Homo sapiens: one gene and its partners. The protein of the gene in region 1 purifies or fractionates together with the protein of each later gene. This does not show direct contact. Each region holds a gene or a part of one and is shown in the gene's direction. Other genes may lie near its edges.

What was found. The genes of interacting proteins can lie anywhere in the genome.
Region 2: the proteins of ACBD7 (region 1) and HPCAL1 purify together in Homo sapiens (affinity purification with mass spectrometry; 2 studies listed by BioGRID and IntAct, with this or other methods). This does not show direct contact.
Region 3: the proteins of ACBD7 (region 1) and YES1 purify together in Homo sapiens (affinity purification with mass spectrometry; one large-scale study listed by BioGRID and IntAct). This does not show direct contact.
Region 4: the proteins of ACBD7 (region 1) and GNAZ purify together in Homo sapiens (affinity purification with mass spectrometry; 2 studies listed by BioGRID and IntAct, with this or other methods). This does not show direct contact.

The regions. Positions count from the first base shown.
Region 1 is NC_000010.11:15,082,277-15,085,776, reverse strand, and holds part of ACBD7 (acyl-CoA-binding domain-containing protein 7), read left to right. Parts: intron 1-3,500. UniProt on the Homo sapiens protein: Binds medium- and long-chain acyl-CoA esters.
Region 2 is NC_000002.12:10,305,904-10,309,403, forward strand, and holds part of HPCAL1 (hippocalcin-like protein 1), read left to right. Parts: intron 1-3,500. UniProt on the Homo sapiens protein: May be involved in the calcium-dependent regulation of rhodopsin phosphorylation.
Region 3 is NC_000018.10:721,088-725,242, reverse strand, and holds the end of YES1 (tyrosine-protein kinase Yes), read left to right. Parts: intron 1-610; coding exon 611-819; 3' UTR 820-3,655; downstream 3,656-4,155. UniProt on the Homo sapiens protein: Non-receptor protein tyrosine kinase that is involved in the regulation of cell growth and survival, apoptosis, cell-cell adhesion, cytoskeleton remodeling, and differentiation.
Region 4 is NC_000022.11:23,122,519-23,125,532, forward strand, and holds the end of GNAZ (guanine nucleotide-binding protein G(z) subunit alpha), read left to right. Parts: coding exon of another isoform or gene 1-132; exon of another isoform or gene 133-184; intron 185-568; coding exon 569-913; 3' UTR 914-2,514; downstream 2,515-3,014. UniProt on the Homo sapiens protein: Guanine nucleotide-binding proteins (G proteins) are involved as modulators or transducers in various transmembrane signaling systems.

The DNA.
Region 1 (3,500 bases):
TAGCCTCCTGATTTTATCTGAAAATTACAATATGTTTCCATCCTCACCAAAGCATTTAGGAGAGCTGATGTTTATCCTAAATGGACAAATTTCTTTCCTAGATGATGAAGCTAAAAAACAGACTTCTTCCTCTAGAATATGTATCTTTTCAAGTCTAGGGTACTGATGATTTTAACAACTGGCAAAAAAAGACTAACCTCTTCCCCCAGCCCACATTTGTGTGACCTAAGAACCCTGCAGTTCCTTGAGTGTGAGAATTTTTTATCTTCTTAATTGGGTTGCTCAATGGGAAAGAATTGCTCAAGAAGACCTTGCCAACCCCCTATGTGGGATGACCATGTTCATTGCAGAAAGTAAAGTCAGGTGAGGTGAGAGCCACCCTCGGAGGCTGTCTTCAGCGGGGCTGAAATGTGAAAGGTAATTTACACAGCAGCCCGCCTAGTCAGCACGGAAGGATGCACCCAGGATGTACCCAGTGTGAGTGATGCTGGCGTAACTTCTACGCCAAAGGTGGGGTGAGGGAGCCTAGTGTCAAAAGTTGAACAGGAGAGAGTCCAGGGAGGGGCTGTAGTAGCCTTAAGGCAGTTTGTCTTGCAGAATCCCAAGCTCGGGTGACCGGGAGATAATGCACAAAACATTCAACCAGGATGCCGAGGACCCCTCGCTCAGGAGAAATCAGCTCAGCATTGGCTGCAGTTCCTGCCAAAGGCAGCAAGCCCAGCTCTGCAACAGGATACTGCAAAACTGTGATGCCTTTCTCTCAGGATGAGGCAGGAGAATAGGGTCTGGAGGCAGGGAACCTAAGGCCGATTCACACTGACTTTGTAGAACTAAATCAAAACCCCAACTTTCCACACCTATGTAATAAAAGGACCGGAGGCTACTCCCTTTGCAACCTCCTCCCCACTTTCTGTGTGGCAGATGGAAAATTGAAAGTATCTCTGACTGGTTGCTTTCTGCAACCAATCAGACATTTGCACAGGAATGTACCTTTGTAACTTCATTTCAGCCTCTGATTGGTTGCTTTCCCCAACCAGTCAGACTGATCGTGAGCCAAGTCTTTATTTGCATAGAAGTGTAACTTTGTAACTTCAGCCTCTGATTGCAGGCCGCTACTTCATTTACATAGGATGCACACCAAGTAACCAATGGGAAGCCTCTGGAGGGCGTTTAAGCACAGAAAATTCTGTAACAGGGATCTTGAGTCCCTGTGCTCGGCCTGCTCCCACCCTGTGGAATGTACTTTCGCTTTCAGTAAATCTCGGCTTTTGTTGCTTCATTGTTTCCTTGCTTTGTTTGTGCATTTTGTCCAATTTTTTGTTCAAAATGCCAAGAACTTGGGCACCCTCCACTGGTAACAAGAATGCTTTGGAATTCAATGTCCATGGCTCTATATTTAAAGCTGCATCTCACCTATGATAACTTTCTGATCCCCCTAAAGTCTGCTCGCTCGTTAACCATCCAACAAGGATGTACTTAATAGACTCAGACCAGGCTCACGCCACCCACCAGCAGTCCGTGAGGCCCCGTGGGTGCTGCCAAGGTGATTATTGATTGATTGTTTATTTATTGATTTGTGAGTATTTATGCAACCCCACATAGCCTTTATGTTGAGCTCTAGTAAGTTCTGTCCACACCGCTGGGAGCAGCTTTCCCTGCCCCTCTGCAGCCAACAATCGCAGACCCGATCCCATCTCATCTCAGGGATGGCTTTTTCCGTTCCGTACCTTCCCGTCTGTGCTACCTCCTGTGTTCCCAGAGCAACTGCTGCACCTTATTTGCAGCAAGTCCCCTGTGGTCACCGTTGCCCTGTTCATCTCCCACCAGGCTATGAGCGCCTTCAAGCACGCTGCCTTGTGCATGCCCATCTGCCTGGCAAAGGCCTGGCCTGTCGGAGGTGTTCAGTAAGTAGGTTTGTTAATTAGTATGAGCTGTGAGATGAACTCTGGGAGGGCAGACTCCATAGGATCAAATCAAGAATATTTTACATTCTTGGCCGGGCATCGTGGCTCACGCCTGTAATCCCAGCACTTTGGGAAGCAGAGGTAGGCAGGTCACTTGAGTTCAGGAGTTCAAGACCAGCTTGGCCAACATGGCAAAACCCTATCTTTATTAAAAATACAAAAAAATTAGCCAGGCGTGGTGGTGCATGCCTGTAATCCTAGCTACTTGGGAGGCTGAGGTGGGAGGATCGCTTGAACCAGGAGGTGGAGGTTGCAGTGAGCCGTGATTGTGCCGCTGTACTCTAGCTTGGACAACAGAGCGAGACTGTCTCAAAAAGAAAATTATATTCTTAATCATCCTTAACCCTAGCACAAAAAGAGGCTGATATTCTCTTTTTGTGGCCGAAGCTGCATCTTAGAGGAGCTTTGTTTGTTGCATCGAGTCCCAGGGCAGTGTGTCTCAAAGCTGGAAGTCAAACCTGAGTATCCTGGCCAAGGCCAATGTTGTTTGTACTCCAGCTCATCATGGCTGGGATGGGAAAGGCCTCCTGCAGGAAGGTGCATCAGAACAGCCCCTTAAGGCAGGAATGTATTGCACTGAGGTGCCAGAACCAGACAGGCTAGACAGAGAGAATGATGCTGGCCCCTGCTCTAGAACTGAGTTCCCTACCTAGGGAGGGAGAAAGAGCGGGGACCCCTGAAATGGCATGGGAAACTGTGTGAGGGCATAGCTCTTCTGTGCAGAGGGGTCCAGGACTTTCATTAGATCTTTTTTTCTTTTCTTTTTTCTTTTTTTTGAGACGGAGTCTTGCTCTGTCACCCAGGCTGGAGTGCAGTGGCAGGATCTTGGCTCACTGCAACCTCTGCTCCTGGGTTCAAACTATTTTCCTGCCTCAGTCTCCTGAGTAGCTGGGATCACAGGTGTGAGGCACCGTGCCCAGCTAATTTTTTGTATTTTTAGTAGAGACGGTGTTTCACCATTTTGGCCAGGCTGGTCTCGAACTCTTGACCTTAAGTGAGCCACCTCCCTCAGCCTCCCAAAATGCTGGGATTACAGACGTGAGCCACTGCACCCAGCCCTCATATGGGTTTTCAAGAAGGCTTAGAATTCTAATTAAGGCTTGGCACCTCAAAAGGAGTCGAGTTGCTGTCACTGGAAAATAATATGAGACTTTACAGCAAGCAGAACACCTGAGATGGCCTATAAACCTACAGAGGAAGGTCCTACACCCCTTCTGCATAGCCTTGCCCTCAAGCAGCTCAGCCACTCATGTAGCATTTCAATTTTGTTCTTATTATAAACACAATCCATGCACATTATAGAAGATTTGGAGAGTACAAAAATATTTTAAAACTACATAACTTGCCAGTAATCAGAGGCAATTACTGTTTACATATCTTTAGTATACATCTTTCTAGTTTTTATTTTTTCTATACTACTTACAAAGCTGAGTGTATAAAAAGAATTTGTGTTCTTTGCTAAACCATAAACTAAAAGTATTTCTTATGTCTTGCTTTATTGCAAGTACCTTTTTTTTTTTTTTTTTTTTGAGATAG
Region 2 (3,500 bases), on another chromosome or scaffold:
TGTTGAAGCGCTGGTGCTCACACCCCCTACCTTCAGGGCTCTGCAAGCACAGTTCCAAGGTCTGCAGCGCGGGTACAGTGCATGCCCTGCTGAGTGTGCGTCAGAGCAGTTGTCTCCCTGTGACACTTATTCTAAGACCCTTTTTGCTACTCATAAGTGGTAGAGTACCACACTCACTCATGAACCAGTGATAATCCAGGGTACTAACGGGGGCCCCGGAGTTTATTTGGCACCGAAGATTAAGCTACTTGGCAGCTGAATTTTTATCTAGATTGGGGTTAGGTTTGTATTAAAATTTTGCATTCCAGCAAGCCCTAAACCGTGCTTGTTCATTGTGGGATAATGCGTTCAACTGATGAGTTGCCAGGCCAGGATTGATGGGGGATTATGTGTATTCTGCTAGTTTGTCAGCACCTGATGTCACTGTGCTGGGGGGTGGGGGAGGCATGTTTGGAGTTAGGATGAGCAGACACTTGTAGATTTTAATCACACTCTACTTTGGGGCTCCCTGCTCTCCTATGGTAGCAGGGGGTTTCTGTGTCGTTCTTATGTCCTCATGTAAAGCTGCACATCTGTGAATGTCAGGTAGCTCTTGTGCTTTTCCCCTTAGATTGAGTTTCTAATCTGGGAATGACAGAGGGTGGCTGTATATGGAGACAGCAGCATGGGCTTAGGGGCTCTTTTGGTGCCAGTTACCCTACGGAAAAAAGGTTTCTTCAAATCACTTTCTACAAAGACTAAAAAATGGTTGGAATCTAGTGGTGCAGATTGTAATATGACTTCAGGTAATCAATACGGTTTGACAGGTGGAACATTTCTTAGATGCTGATGAGCAGGGCGCAAGTCTCAAGATTTTTAAATCATCTGAAAAGCACAGTAAATCCTTTAAAGAGCCCTACCTTGGCCATGTTGTTTCAAGTAAAATTGAATTTCAGAGGCAAAGCTTCACATCGGAGGCATGACGAACTAAAGAAATCCTTCCCAGAGACCTCCACTCTCTTCCTGTTGCCACCCTCCTCTGCCAGCAGCAGGGCAGGAAAGATGACTTCTTGGGGCTGTGTGCCTTTACCTTAAGAAGCAAGTGCACCCTGAATGCTTCTAATCCCGCAGCTGGGTTGTCTGGGTATTTGGATCTTTTTGGTGCTTGAGGTACTACCCAAGTTGGCAGGAAGCCAGGAGCCTGGGGGTGGAGGTGTCTTAGCCCCACCTGTGGCATGAGACAAGAGGTCTTCTCCAGCAAGGGATGGGTCTCTGACCCTTGGCTAAGAAAACTCAGGATTGTTAAATACGTACTGCATGGATAAGGTTGCTGTGACCCTGAAAAAAGGAAGAAGGCTTTTGGGTGGTGCGTGGTTCTCCTCTTGGAAGTCTTCCCAGATTTCGCCTCAGTACTCTCTTGCCCTAGCTTAAATCTTTCCTTGCTCTGTGTCCCCTTAGGCAAGTGAGGTCTCCTCTCAGGTAGGCATGATATTAAGTGCATGTCTAGAGGACAGTTCCTTCTACCTGCCCAGGTGCACTGGCTGAACTCACCTATGCCCACATCTGTGCATTGGCAGGTGATATAGATATACACCTGAGCTGTCCCCCTGAGCTGCAGACCTAACACTAGGTGTGGGCTCCGAGCTGTTCCACATCAAAACAGAGCCGAGGACACATCTCCCTCACTGAAGCTGTGTCTCCTACCTATTATGGTCAACACGTCTCATCTACTCATTTGTTAAAGCTAGAAATCTCTGGAGAGTTTTGGAGCTCTTTCTCTGTCTTCACTTGAAATCTCTGGAGAGTTTTGGAGCTCTTTGTCTGTCTTCACTTTGCCATCTAATTGGGTCAGCCCTCTCTGAGGGCTCACACCCACTCTTCCGGCACAGCGGAGCCTTATCTGCCCTTGGCCCAGAGAATGCTTCCAGTTCCTTCACTCCAGCCACACCGGCAGCACTTCCCAGTTTAAAACGCAGATTTCATCATCCCACTGTCTTCTGCCTCCCCAACCCCACCAAACCTTGGTTTGTTCTCTTAACGCAGTAAGTGCTTCTGATACCTACTGTGTGCCTTGGACCAAGCTGGAGTCTGAGAAGGTTGGGCCCAGGCATCCTCCCTACCTGTGCAGAGTTTAAGGTCTTGGGCTGGGGGTTGTATGTGGGGTACCTATCAAATAAGACCAGGGAGCGTGAAGTGCTATGGAGGGGAGCTCCTACCCCAGTATAGGGGGCTCCCTGGAGAAGCACCCTCTAAGCTGATACCTGGGAGAGTTGGGGGTGCAGGGGAGGGGTTGGAGTTGGGGCTGGATTGTTCGATGCCTTTCTTCTGTCTCACCCAGACTTCCTTATCTGCTAAACTCCTACTCATTTTTGTTTTAATTAATACCAAGATAGAATTTATCTCTCATAAAGCATGCCCATTCTAAGTGTACAGTTTAATGATTTTCAGTAAATTAATAGAGTTCATAGCCATTACCACAATCCAGTTTTGGAACATATCCATCACCCCAGAAAGATCCCTCTTTTGTACAAACTCCCTGTCCCCGTCCTCAAGCCGCCAGTCCCCCACAGATTTGCTTTCTGTCTCTAGATTTGCCTTTTCTTTCTATGTTTCTTAGTGTGTTTTCATAGGTTCGGCCCAAGAGCTGTTTCATTTGGGCCTTCCTAGAGTCTTCTAGTTAGAATCAATTTATCCCCCAGCACCGACGAAGTGAGCTGGGTGCTTGGCCATCCCGCTGCTAGATGGCGAGCTCTCTTACCTGCCTCTCCTGCCTGCACCTGGCTCAGCACTGGCACCTACAGAATACCCAAGGTGTGTTGGCTGGACCAGCTGAAGTTGTGTTCCTCACATTTCTTTTGTATAACTCCTGAGTATCTAGCAGAGTGTGGGGATTTAAAATACAGCGCATGTATTGATGTGTCAGGTGATGTGAGCCCTGCTACATACATACCTTAACTTGTTTCATCAAGAACTTGTGAGGCAAATGGCAAATCAAAAACAAAAACAAACAAAACAAAACAAAACAAATCTATTTTCTAAGCCAGGCACAGTGGCTCTTGTCTGTAGTTCCAGCTACTAGGGGGTGCTGAGGTGGGAGGATTGCTTGAAATCAGGGATTTGAGCCTGGGCAATATTGTGAGACCCTGCTTCTTAACAAACTTTTTTTTTTTGAGATAGGGTCTTGCTCTGTTGCCCAGGCTGGAGTGCAGTGATGTGATCCCAGCTCACTGCAGCCTTGAACTCCTGGGCCCAAGCAATCCCCCTGCCATAGTCTCCTGAGTAGCTAGGACTACAGGTACACACCACCATGCCTGCTGATTTTTAAATTTTTTGTGGAGACGAGGTCTTGCTATGTTGCCCAGACTGGTCTTGAGCTCCCGGGCTCAAATAATCCTCCAGCCTTGGCCTCTCAAAGTGCTGGAATTATAAGTGTGAACTACTGTGCCTCAGCCCAAGCCATTTTTCTAAATGAAAAAACTGAGGAGGCCCAGAGCAAATAAGTAGCCCAAGGGCATCAGCAG
Region 3 (4,155 bases), on another chromosome or scaffold:
AGGAGGCATTTTGCTGTCCTGTGATAAGATGGGGTGAACTGCTGATCAGGGGGTTGAGGAAGGGGGGATTACAAAGGAATACAAGAAAGGAACTATGTGTAATATCTTGAAGAAAGTCAAACAGGTAATATTAGATAAGGAAACTTTCACAGAAGTAATTCAATATAAAGTTATGTAGTTGGTATATTTGGCAAAACCAAGACTAGAACTTTCTTCTGAATTCCTGTTTTAAAGTTCTTTCAGACAGGATCTTGCCACCATTCCTCAGTAACCCAAGTTTGGTCATTGTTAAATGTTAATATTAGAAAGTACCAGTACCTCATAGTAGCACCCTAAATTCTTATTAATCAAATGGGGTTGGCTTTTGAAGACATTAGTATTAAAAATAAGATATAAGATGGAATGAAAAATTAGACATGTTAAAACATAGATTAGCATTTTCTAAGCTCTTCTTGATATTCTCATGTTTAAAATTTATTTTGTTGCTTTGTTAAAAGAATTGTTTCACTAAATAATATACTTTGAATGAGTTAGTGGCTAGGGGGTTTGTTATGTTTTCCTAGTGGTAGTTAGGACCATTGTTCTTTAATGTTTTAATCTTGTGTATTAGGTATGGTGAACCGTGAAGTATTAGAACAAGTGGAGCGAGGATACAGGATGCCGTGCCCTCAGGGCTGTCCAGAATCCCTCCATGAATTGATGAATCTGTGTTGGAAGAAGGACCCTGATGAAAGACCAACATTTGAATATATTCAGTCCTTCTTGGAAGACTACTTCACTGCTACAGAGCCACAGTACCAGCCAGGAGAAAATTTATAATTCAAGTAGCCTATTTTATATGCACAAATCTGCCAAAATATAAAGAACTTGTGTAGATTTTCTACAGGAATCAAAAGAAGAAAATCTTCTTTACTCTGCATGTTTTTAATGGTAAACTGGAATCCCAGATATGGTTGCACAAAACCACTTTTTTTTCCCCAAGTATTAAACTCTAATGTACCAATGATGAATTTATCAGCGTATTTCAGGGTCCAAACAAAATAGAGCTAAGATACTGATGACAGTGTGGGTGACAGCATGGTAATGAAGGACAGTGAGGCTCCTGCTTATTTATAAATCATTTCCTTTCTTTTTTTCCCCAAAGTCAGAATTGCTCAAAGAAAATTATTTATTGTTACAGATAAAACTTGAGAGATAAAAAGCTATACCATAATAAAATCTAAAATTAAGGAATATCATGGGACCAAATAATTCCATTCCAGTTTTTTAAAGTTTCTTGCATTTATTATTCTCAAAAGTTTTTTCTAAGTTAAACAGTCAGTATGCAATCTTAATATATGCTTTCTTTTGCATGGACATGGGCCAGGTTTTTCAAAAGGAATATAAACAGGATCTCAAACTTGATTAAATGTTAGACCACAGAAGTGGAATTTGAAAGTATAATGCAGTACATTAATATTCATGTTCATGGAACTGAAAGAATAAGAACTTTTTCACTTCAGTCCTTTTCTGAAGAGTTTGACTTAGAATAATGAAGGTAACTAGAAAGTGAGTTAATCTTGTATGAGGTTGCATTGATTTTTTAAGGCAATATATAATTGAAACTACTGTCCAATCAAAGGGGAAATGTTTTGATCTTTAGATAGCATGCAAAGTAAGACCCAGCATTTTAAAAGCCCTTTTTAAAAACTAGACTTCGTACTGTGAGTATTGCTTATATGTCCTTATGGGGATGGGTGCCACAAATAGAAAATATGACCAGATCAGGGACTTGAATGCACTTTTGCTCATGGTGAATATAGATGAACAGAGAGGAAAATGTATTTAAAAGAAATACGAGAAAAGAAAGTGAAAGTTTTACAAGTTAGAGGGATGGAAGGTAATGTTTAATGTTGATGTCATGGAGTGACAGAATGGCTTTGCTGGCACTCAGAGCTCCTCACTTAGCTATATTCTGAGACTTTGAAGAGTTATAAAGTATAACTATAAAACTAATTTTTCTTACACACTAAATGGGTATTTGTTCAAAATAATGAAGTTATGGCTTCACATTCATTGCAGTGGGATATGGTTTTTATGTAAAACATTTTTAGAACTCCAGTTTTCAAATCATGTTTGAATCTACATTCACTTTTTTTTGTTTTCTTTTTTGAGACGGAGTCTCGCTCTGTCGCCCAGGCTGGAGTGCAGTGGCGCGATCTCGGCTCACTGCAAGCTCTGCCTCCCAGGTTCACACCATTCTCCTGCCTCAGCCTCCCGAGTAGCTGGGACTACAGGTGCCCACCACCACGCCTGGCTAGTTTTTTGTATTTTTAGTAGAGACGCAGTTTCACCGTGTTAGCCAGGATAGTCTCGATCTCCTGACCTTGTGATCTGCCCGCCTCGGCCTCCCAAAGTGCTGGGATTACAGGCGTGAGCCACCGCGCCCAGCCTACATTCACTTCTAAAGTCTATGTAATGGTGGTCATTTTTTCCCTTTTAGAATACATTAAATGGTTGATTTGGGGAGGAAAACTTATTCTGAATATTAACGGTGGTGAAAAGGGGACAGTTTTTACCCTAAAGTGCAAAAGTGAAACATACAAAATAAGACTAATTTTTAAGAGTAACTCAGTAATTTCAAAATACAGATTTGAATAGCAGCATTAGTGGTTTGAGTGTCTAGCAAAGGAAAAATTGATGAATAAAATGAAGGTCTGGTGTATATGTTTTAAAATACTCTCATATAGTCACACTTTAAATTAAGCCTTATATTAGGCCCCTCTATTTTCAGGATATAATTCTTAACTATCATTATTTACCTGATTTTAATCATCAGATTCGAAATTCTGTGCCATGGCATATATGTTCAAATTCAAACCATTTTTAAAATGTGAAGATGGACTTCATGCAAGTTGGCAGTGGTTCTGGTACTAAAAATTGTGGTTGTTTTTTCTGTTTACGTAACCTGCTTAGTATTGACACTCTCTACCAAGAGGGTCTTCCTAAGAAGAGTGCTGTCATTATTTCCTCTTATCAACAACTTGTGACATGAGATTTTTTAAGGGCTTTATGTGAACTATGATATTGTAATTTTTCTAAGCATATTCAAAAGGGTGACAAAATTACGTTTATGTACTAAATCTAATCAGGAAAGTAAGGCAGGAAAAGTTGATGGTATTCATTAGGTTTTAACTGAATGGAGCAGTTCCTTATATAATAACAATTGTATAGTAGGGATAAAACACTAACTTAATGTGTATTCATTTTAAATTGTTCTGTATTTTTAAATTGCCAAGAAAAACAACTTTGTAAATTTGGAGATATTTTCCAACAGCTTTTCGTCTTCAGTGTCTTAATGTGGAAGTTAACCCTTACCAAAAAAGGAAGTTGGCAAAAACAGCCTTCTAGCACACTTTTTTAAATGAATAATGGTAGCCTAAACTTAATATTTTTATAAAGTATTGTAATATTGTTTTGTGGATAATTGAAATAAAAAGTTCTCATTGAATGCACCTATTAATCGTTTTAGTTGCTATTCATATTCTCATTCGTTTTTTAAAAACTGATATATTCTGAATTTATTCTTCCATTGAGAAAAAAATGTTCAGTTACTTGTAACTACTGAGCAGAATTTAATCAATCCTTTATTAAATTCAGAACATTATTGAACTCATTCTTTGTGGTCAATTTTCTTTTTTTTTTGTTTTGTTTTGTTTTTTTTTTGAGACGGAGTCTCGCTCTGTCGCCCAGGCTGGAGTGCAGTGGCGCGATCTTGGCTCACTGCAAGCTCCGCCTCCCGGGGTCACGCCATTCTCCTGCCTCGGCCACCCGAGTAGCTGGGACTACAGGCGCCTGCTACCACGCCCGGCTAATTTTTTGTATTTTTTAGTAGAGACGGGGTTTCACCATGTTAGCCAGGATGGTCTCGATCTCCTGACCTCGTGATCCGTCCGCTTCGGCCTCCCAAAGTGCTGGGATTACAGGCGTGAGCCACCGCGCCCGGCCTGTGGTCAATTTTCTATGTCAAGTGAGTGACATTATTTTTACAAGTATTTTCTTCTTCTTAAAATTATACCAGCAAATACAGTTAATGCAGAAACCTAAGTAATTTGAGTGTAGCTATTCACAATCTATGTGAAGAATATAAAATAGAATGACCAGTTTTATTATAAA
Region 4 (3,014 bases), on another chromosome or scaffold:
TTTGGTTACAGAAGTGAAGGCTGCTCCCTCACAGACTTCCTAGTGTCCGATGGTACCACATGGAAGGATCAGAGTTTTGAAGGACTGGGCCAGAACCCAGATAGGGCACAAGGCTGCCAGCGCCTGCATTGAGGGAGCTATGATGTGACGGGGGCTCCTGCAGAAGATGGCCTTCCTTGTACAGGTGTGGGGCAGCCTGTGGATGGGCAGTGGGAAGATGGGGGGTCCTCGGAGCTGGAGGTGCCCAGCGGTTTAGGAGGCTGTGCTTGGCACATCTGTAGCCCCAAAGCTATATGTTGAGATCACTGGCACCCAGAGGAGAGACCCAAAAGGGGCAAGAGAACATCTTCCAAGCACTTGCCACTGGCAAGGAGGGTGCTGCCGGCTATTTCCGTGGGAGGTGGGTGAAGACATTTAACCTGGGCTTCCCCAGCAGAAGGAGGTGCCATTGCAGGGACCAGTCTTGGGCTGAGACCCTAGCAAAGGCTTCCTCTGGCAGGGCTGCAGGTCTAGGGTCTGTCTCTGCCTGCTGCGGGCCTGATTAACGCCAGTACTTTCCTTTCCCCAGAGTCGGATGGCAGAGAGCTTGCGCCTCTTTGACTCCATCTGCAACAACAACTGGTTCATCAACACCTCACTCATCCTCTTCCTGAACAAGAAGGACCTGCTGGCAGAGAAGATCCGCCGCATCCCGCTCACCATCTGCTTTCCCGAGTACAAGGGCCAGAACACGTACGAGGAGGCCGCTGTCTACATCCAGCGGCAGTTTGAAGACCTGAACCGCAACAAGGAGACCAAGGAGATCTACTCCCACTTCACCTGCGCCACCGACACCAGTAACATCCAGTTTGTCTTCGACGCGGTGACAGACGTCATCATACAGAACAATCTCAAGTACATTGGCCTTTGCTGAGGAGCTGGGCCCGGGGCCCGCCTGCCTATGGTGAAACCCACGGGGTGTCATGCCCCAACGCGTGCTAGAGAGGCCCAATCCAGGGGCAGAAAACAGGGGGCCTAAAGAATGTCCCCCACCCCTTGGCCTCTGCCTCCTTGGCCCCACATTTCTGCAAACATAAATATTTACGGATAGATTGCTAGGTAGATAGACACACACACATGCACACACACACATCTGGAGATGGCAAAATCCTCTAAAATGTCGAGGTCTCTTGAAGACTTGAGAAGCTGTCACAAGGTCACTACAAGCCCAACCTGCCCCTTCACTTTGCCTTCCTGAGTTGGCCCCACTCCACTTGGGGGTCTGCATTGGATTGTTAGGGATAGGCAGCAGGGCTGAGGCAAGGTAGGCCAACTGCACCCCTGTCGCCTGGAGGAGGGCCAGCTCGCTGCCCGAGCTCTGGCCTAGGGACCTTGCCGCTGACCAAGAGGGAGGACCAGTGCAGGGTCTGTGCACCTTCCCTGCTGGCCTGCACACAGCTGCTCAGCACCACTTTCATTCTGGACCTGGGACCTTAGGAGCCGGGTGACAGCACTAACCAGACCTCCAGCCACTCACAGCTCTTTTTAAAAAACAGCTTCAAAATATGCAGCAAAAACCAATACAACAAAACGAGTGGCACGATTTATTTCAAACTAGGCCAGCTGGGATTCCAGCTTTTCTTCTACTAGTCTGATGTTTTATAAATCAAAACCTGGTTTTCCTTCTCTGACATTTTTTTTTTGTTTTGTTTTTTGGTTTTTTTTTTTTTTTGGCCAAATCTCGTGGTGTTTCGCAGAAAAAAATCCAGAAAATTTCAAATGCAGTTGAGTATTCTTTTTTAAATGCAGATTTTCAAAACATATTTTTTTTCAGGTGGTCTTTTTTGTGTCTGGCTTGCTGAGTGTAAAAGTTGTTATCTGGACGATCTGTCTCTCTGCTCCAAAGAAATTTTGGAGTGAGTGGCAGTCCTGCGCCAGCCTCGCGGGACACGTGTTGTACATAAGCCTCTGCAGTGTCCTCTTGTTAATGGTGGGGTTTTCTGCTTTGTTTTTATTTAAGAAAATAAACACGACATATTTAAAGAAGGTTCTTTCACCTGGGAGCAAATGAACAATAGCTAAGTGTCTTGGTATTTAAAGAGTAAATTATTTGTGGCTTTGCTGAGTGAAGGAAGGGGAGCAAGGGGTGGTGCCCCTGGTCCCAGCATGCCCCGCGCCTGAGACTGGCTGGAAATGCTCTGACTCCTGTGAAGGCACAGCCAGCGTTGTGGCCTGAGGGAGGCCCTGCTGGGACCCTGATCTGGGCCTTCCTGTCCCAGGGCCTATGGGCAACTGCGTTGAAAGGACGTTCGCCAAGGGCCGTGTGTAAATACGAACTGCGCCATGGAGAGGAGAGGCACTGCCGGAGCCCTTGCCAGATCTCCCTCCCTCTCTCCGTGCAGTAGCTGTGTGTCCGAGGTCAGTGTGCGGAATCACAGCCAAGGACGTGAAGAGATGTACGGGGGAAAGAGAAGCTGGGGATTGGATGAAAGTCAAAGGTTGTCTACTTTAAGAAAATAAAATACCCTGAATGGAGCCCAGCATTGTCCCAGTGTGCTATGTGTGTAGCTGACCTGTGGCTGGACTTGGTGCCATCTGGAAGGGCAGCCGGGGACACCTCCATTCTGAGGTCCCATATTCCAAACCCCACCCCTATACCTCCACACATTTAGGTAGAGTCATTTTGCAATGAACATCACAAATAAACATCACGAGAGGAAAGAAACTGCAAAGAGGGGAAACCTGCCAGGTCCATGCAGTCCTGGTGTGGAGGTCTGGGGGTGATGATGACTCCTGCCCCTCCCGCTGCCCCCAAGACCCCACCCAACACTGACCCAGGCTGTGCCATACCCTGGACCCCTCCCACCATGTGGACACCTCAGCCAATGTCAGAGTCATCCTGCAGAGTGGAAGAGGTGCCCTGAGGGCCTGGAGGGTTCCTGTGCCCCCAGTAGTGTAGGGCAAACCTTGTAGGGTTTTGGAGAGGAGGGGTCCCTGAGCATGCAGTGCTCGCTGACTGGCTTGTGTGGTTAGAG